Homo sapiens: one gene and its partner. The gene in region 1 interacts genetically with each later gene. Each region holds a gene or a part of one and is shown on either strand. Other genes may lie near its edges.

What was found.
Region 2: changes in UTP4 (region 1) and SRFBP1 together harm fitness more than expected from each alone (negative genetic interaction), as found in Homo sapiens cells (one large-scale study listed by BioGRID).

What each region holds. Positions count from the first base shown.
Region 1 is NC_000016.10:69,163,388-69,166,859, forward strand, and holds part of UTP4 (U3 small nucleolar RNA-associated protein 4 homolog), read left to right. Parts: intron 1-1,953; coding exon 1,954-2,139; intron 2,140-3,472. UniProt on the Homo sapiens protein: Ribosome biogenesis factor. Involved in nucleolar processing of pre-18S ribosomal RNA. Part of the small subunit (SSU) processome, first precursor of the small eukaryotic ribosomal subunit.
Region 2 is NC_000005.10:122,013,975-122,017,474, forward strand, and holds part of SRFBP1 (serum response factor-binding protein 1), read left to right. Parts: intron 1-3,500. UniProt on the Homo sapiens protein: May be involved in regulating transcriptional activation of cardiac genes during the aging process. May play a role in biosynthesis and/or processing of SLC2A4 in adipose cells.

The DNA of each region.
Region 1 (3,472 bases):
AAGCACTAAGATTCTAGAGTAAAGAATCACAAGAGGGAGGAGGAATTTTGAAGTACTCATTTTCCTGATTGTTTTAGAGGAGAGATGACATGGGCTTGGGTATTAAACTGGATATGGGATGGAATAAGATTTTGAGAGTTGAAAGTGACTAAAAGATTGTATCATTCACCTTTACGCTTGCCGATGAGGAAATCAAGCCCTAATAAGATCAGGTACCTAATCTCAGCCAAAATTAGAACCTAATCTACTTTTTTCTATACCAATTTGTAAGGAGATTGTGATTATAAGGAGATCTTTAAAAAAAAAAAAACCTGGGCTGCGGAATATATTAGGAAGTTATCAATAATTATATTAGGAAGTTATCAATAATTCATCTGTAAAATTGGAGATGTTAATATCTACCTCACTGAGCTGTTGGGAAGATTAAATGTAATCCAGGAAGCACATTTAAGTAGAGTGCTAGGCAAATGATGCTTACTGCTTTGATGGTCAGTTTGTTTTTTTTTTTTTTTTTTTGAGACAGAGTCTCGCTCTGTCGCCCAGGCTGGAGTGCAGTGGTGCGATCTCCGATCACTGCAAGCTCCGCCTTCCGGGTTCATGTCATCCTCCTGCCTCAGCCTCCCGAGTAGCTGGACTACAGGCGCCCGCCACCATGCCCGGCTAATTTTTTGTATTTTTAGTAGAGATGGAGTTTCACCATGTTAGCCAGGATGGTCTCGATCTCCTGACCTTGTGATCCGCCCGCCTCGGCCTCCCAAAGTGCTGGGATTACAGGCTTGAGCCACCGCGCCCGGCTGATGGTCAGTTTTTACACTCACACATGCACACACACACTGTCCAAAAAGTGAAATCTCTCAGTTTTATAGATTTGAGTCCTTGACCAAAGACTGAAAGAGTAGTGAAGCCACACATCTTTGCCTTTGTCACACATAATGATAATTTCCCCCATGACACCTTTTACTGGCACTTAGTCCCTTAAGTGCTTCTGAAAGTAAAACTGATGGGAAGTTTTTTATATCTGTTAGATTAGCAAAGATCAAAGACTTGATAATATACAGTGTTCTGAAGGTATAGGGAAACAGTACTCTCACACATTGTGTAAATTATCCTAACCCTTTTGGAGGACATGTTGGCAATACCTTAAAAATTTTAAAGTCCACATGGTCTTTGACTTAGAAATTTCAGTTCTAATCATTCTTTATATATATATATATATATATATATATATGTATATATATATCTGTATATAGATATATATGCTTCTAGCTGTGCAAAAAGACATTTATACAGAGACAGCTTTGTTTGTAGTAGACAAAGATATGAAACAAGCTAATGTCCATTAAGCAGAGTGGATAAGTAAATCATGATACATGGACAAAATGAGTGGACTATTCTGTGTTTCAGAATGGGCATGACCGATATATATGTGTATTAATGTGGGTCAGTCTCCGTGATATAACACTGAGCAACAAAAGCAAGATACAGAACGCTATGTATTATGTGCATAAAATAGCTCTGAAAAGATGGGCAGGGCGCGGTGGCTCACGCCTGTAATCCCAGCACTTTGGGAGGCTGAGGCGGGCAGATCACGAGGTCAGGAGATCAAGACCATCCTGGCTAACACAGTGAAACCCCATCTCTACTAAAAATACAAAAAATTAGCCGGGCGTACTCGTGGGCGCCTATAGTCCCAGCTATTTGGGAGGCTGAGGCAGGAGAACGGCTTGAACCGGGGAGGCGGAGCTTGCAGTGAGCGGAGATCACGCCACTACACTCCAGCCTGTGTGGCAGAGTGAGACTCCATCTCAAAAAAAAAAAAAAGTGTTGGGAGAGCATAGAATGAATATAATACAGTTGAAGCTTTGTATAGATACTTTCTGGTTAGGGATGAGAATGCCCTTCTGGTCTTTCTGAGTACCAGCCTGCATTTCTCTATGTCATGTCCTCCCTCAGGTATTTGAGTACAGCATCCCAGACAAACAGTATACAGATTGGAGCCGGACTGTCCAGAAGCAGGGCTTTCACCACCTTTGGCTCCAAAGGGATACTCCTATCACACACATCAGTTTTCATCCCAAGAGACCGATGCACATCCTTCTCCATGATGCCTACATGTTCTGCATCATTGACAAGTCATTGGTGAGTTCTTCACTGCTACCTCCCAAATCTTCTTCTGAATCTTAAAGTTCTAAAAGCAACAAGTACAATAAGGTAAGAGGACAGAGACTCAGAATAAAGGTAGCTAGTAAATCAGAATACAGGTAGCTAGTACATTTCTTGGAGGAGAGGGGCTTTTGTTTTACAGATTCCCTGGTTTGTGTTCCCACAGTTCTTCGGGAGGCTCTCGGGGAAGGGGCTGGCCTTTGTATACTGGCTTTTGCTGATTTGACTATTTGTCTACTTTGCGAGTAAGCACATAAATCTTACACAGAAAAGTGATTAGGCCAGTATTCGGAAGGTGACCCTCATCCGGAAGTATCATTGATTTGGCTAACTTGCTTTCAACTTTGAACTCTGGGGTATCTGAATAACCTGGTTTCATTAAAGGAGGTACAGGCTGAGGTTTTGACCTCTGTGCCCCTTCGCTAAAGCTACTAAAACGCTGTCTGCAGGCTTGAGGAACTGGTCTTAACATCTTCGAAAAACCCAGCTAGGAAAATTCTTCATGGCTGTGATTTACATGGGATACGAGCATTTTCTTCAGTTTTAGATTCTGTCCTCTTTGCCAGCTGCTGTTTTGATTCACCCTGAATTTGTATGGCTTTTCTGGGCAGGTGCTTTGTTTCCTAGGAGCATTGTGGCCATGCCTGTCCTGCACTTTGGGCTTAGATTACAACCATCACACGGTGTTTTGGTGTGTTTGTGAAGGTGGGGGTGGAAGGAACATGGGGGAAAGCAGCAGATGGCTCTAAAGGAGGTGTGCACGGGGATGTGTCACTGGAATCATCTCGTGGGCCCTGCGACCTCTGGGTGTGGGAAGCAGAGCTGGCTGACAAGTGCCTTCTGCAAGATGAGTGATACAGGAAGGGCCCCTCCCACTCTCTTGCCTCTTTGTAATTGAGCCCAGATCATTTTTTCCAAAGCATTGGCTTTAAGTTCATCGCTTCCTTACAGTAGGCATAGCTATTTCCCAGGAAGTCAGAGACAAAATATCATTTCTTTGGCCAGAGGCCACCTCGAGGTGTCAGTGACATCAGCACAGGTGGTTTGTGTTGAGGTTTCGCCTGGGGAGAACTCCAGTCACTTGTCCAGTCTGTGATCTGGTTGGGGGAGAGTCTAGAAAGCACAGACCCTGTGTGGGCTGAGCTCCTGCACTTGCCAGTTTGTTCCATTCTGACAAAGTGATACTGATGAGACAGGCCAGAAGCCGCAGAAGGGCCCTTTGATCTTGCTGCATGGAGTTAACAAGCTCTCTTTGCCTCATACACCCACCCTCTACAGTGTGGCTGCAAGAGTAGCTTCAGCTCTTTCT
Region 2 (3,500 bases), on another chromosome or scaffold:
AGCACAGCAAGGTGACTACAGTTAATATATTTCAAAATAGCCAAAAGAGAGGATTTAAAATGTTCCCATCACAAAGAAATGATAAATGTTTAAAGTGGTAGATATGGTAATTACTCTGATTTGATGATTCTACAATGTATGCATGTGTCAATATCACTTTGTACTCTATAAGTGTCTAAAATTATTGTCAAAATAAAACAGAAAACACATCTTAGAGTTTTATAACAATATTTATATATTTATAACATTTTATCAGCTGATAGCATTAACTGTTATTCAGAAACACAAATTGCATATAATTATAGAACCTAAAGCTGTAGTATACATAATTCTACATAACTACTCATTTTATATACCTACATACCCTGTAGACCCAAACTTTTATGTTCTCCTTTGACTCACTGCTGCTACATATGGCTGCAGAGCTCCAATTTGACAACTACAATGTGAGTGACTCTCCGGGGATTATGCAACACGGTGGCCCTTTTCGAATCAGTCTCATTTTATATAAACTTGATATTCTTCCACAAATAAGTGCTCCACAAAGATTGCAACATAAAAACACAGTTATAGAAGAAGACATTAGAAAAAAAAAATTAAAAAAATCTTCATTCATGAGATTCGTACATAATTATAGAATTGTAAATCTTTTTCTAGAGCCTTTCAGAAAAAAATGAAATTCACTGAAATGAGATTACTAAATCAGCGTTAGTCTGGGATATCTTCCAGGGCAGAGAAACAGCTTTGCTAAATAAAATTAATGATAAAATGACTCTTAACAAAATAGCATTTACCCCGGAGTCCACACTAGACATGCAAGTATTACCACTGCTCTTCTAAAACTTGTTATAACTAAGATGGGAAGATATAGCTAACTCTGGAAAGAAATACCCAGTTCAGCAAAGATTTTAGCAAGTTGTCAAAACAGGGATTTGGAAACAGCAGTAGATGTGTTTTTCAACAATTGTTTGAATACATTTTAATCAAAATCTGGTTAGGATTCCCAGAATTTCTTATGTCTGTTTTATATCTGTTCATATATTGAGAATTACCTTTGAAGTGGATTTTTAGAAACTATAAGAGGTAAACATGCTGAAAGAAGCAGTAAAAGGTAAAAAGCTGCTCCTGGAATATCTTCTTTTTTCCTATAACCTGAAGGGCAGTTTCTTGGGGAATACACTTCTCAGGATTAGTCATTTTTGTTGTCATTGTTTTTACATACCAACCTTCTGTAATTAATCCTGAGGATTAAAATATACTGCTTCTTCATTGGATACCAAATTGTTTCTACCAAGACAGAATCTCAAATTGTGTTACCAATCTGGAAGCACACTTACTGCTATAATCTGTTGCTTTAATTTGGCAACAGAAGTCTGTCATGGTAGTATTTTTATTTTAAATTTTTAAACATCACGGGCCTACTACACAGTTTTTTCTTTCTTCCTGATTTTTTAGTTCTGCCCCACCAAGGATTCTACTTGCATGTAATTTAGAGCAGGCATCACGCTTTTTCTGTAAAGGACCTGAAATGAATGCCTTTGTAAGACACACAGCTTCTGTCACAACTACTTCGCTTTACCATTGTGTCGTGAGTGCAGACATAGGCAATATATAAATGAATGACTTTGGCTTTGTTCCATAAAACTTTATTAAATAAAAGAAAGTTCCAGCGGCAGGCTGGAACAGCCCCCATGGGCCAGTTTGCCAATTCCTGGTTTTGAAAATCAAATACTTCTACAAGAATTTTTTTATAAAAGTGGCAGTACTCTATTATTCCTTTCCTGCTTCAATTGCAGTTAGTTCGCATAGAGTTTACCCCTACAGTAAGATGTTTATGTACTGTATTAGCTTTTTTATTTTAAGCACTAGCTATTAACTTTATGTTGTGGTAGGTAAAGATTTAGATCTCTTTTCTCCTTCAGGCTCTAAGTCATATATCCCCTCCATCCTCCTCATATACTTATCTCCTGATATCCCCCCTTCATCCTCCTTATATACTTGAATCAGATTAGGTGAACATTTATTGATTATGTTATTGTGACTGTGAGTCATGTACTGAGTTATTACTACTTTTCTGCATAATATTTCTGTTTTCTACAGTTTGTGATAGGTTTATTTTGTTAGTTTTCTGTCTTATCTGTAGTGTAACACCAAACTCTCCATCTGCTATTGATATGTCCTCTCCAGATATTCAGCACACCAAGTATCCCAAACCTAAGTCTCCTGTCACCATCATCCTGGGAAGTTCCTTCTGCCTAAGTCTTCTGTTTCTTGTCTCCTATGCCATTCTTATTATTTGTATCCTTCCTCATTTTAGGGGAGCCAGTAGCTTCTTGGACAGAAATGTACAAGGATGTAAATTTTTTTGAATAAACTGCATGTGTGGAAGTATTTTTCTTCTTCCCTAGGTTGGAAATTCTTTTCCTTCATAATTTTAGAAGCATTAGCTGCTCTATAGTTTGACTTCCAGAATTAAAGTCTGAAACCATTGTGATCTGTGCGTCTTTTCTTTTTAGTTTATTATTTGGTGACTTGTTTTATTATCTGAAATCTTGTAGGTCCCAATATACTAATGTGACTATTTTCATATATTGTTTTCAGTCTTCTTAGCCTGAAAAATCATGTTTTTCATTGGAGTTTCTATATTCTAGCTTTTAATACTCAAGCAAGCATGTTTGACCTATGCCTTCAGCAGCTCAGCTTGTCACTAAGTGACTCAGGATACTAGCAATAACCTTCCTTCCTAAATTATCTTTTTTCTATCTTTCCTCTATTGTATCAGGAAACTCAGCAGCAGGTTGAAGAAACAGGTTCACTTTGCGCTGTACTTAAATGAATGGTCCATGAGTAGACGACATTTCTTGGAAAAGGTTGAACAGAAGCTGTGTCTAATAGTCAGAATAGATGCGTATCAGTTTCCTAAGGCTGCCATAACAAAGTATCACAAATTGAGTGGTTTAAAACTATGTAAATTGGCCAGGCGCGGTGGCTCACACCTGTAATCCCAGCACTTTGGGAGGCCGAGGCAGGTGGATCACAAGGTCAGGAGTTCGACACCAGCCTGGCCAACGTGGTGAAACCCCATCTCTACTAAAAATACAAAAATCAGCTGAGCGTGGTGGCGGGTGCCTGTAGTCCCAGCTACTCGGGAGGCTGAGACAGGAGAATCGCTTGAACCCGGGAGGCGGAGGTTGCAGTAAGCCAAGATCACGCTACTGCAACTCCAGCCTGGGTGACAGAGTGAGACTCCCAACAACAACAACAAAAAAGTAAATTTATTTTCTCACAGTTGAGGAGGGTGAAAGCTTGAAATTAAGGTGTCAGTGAGGCCACACTTTCTCTGGAAGCTCCAGAGGGGAAACTTTCCTGTGTCTTTGAGCTACTGGTGGCTGATGCCAGGATAACTCCAATCTTTGCCCTTAGTGTTCACGTAGTCTTTACTGTGTCTCTCTGTGCCCCTATATCAAAATATTCTTCTCCTTATAAGGAAACCAGTCTTA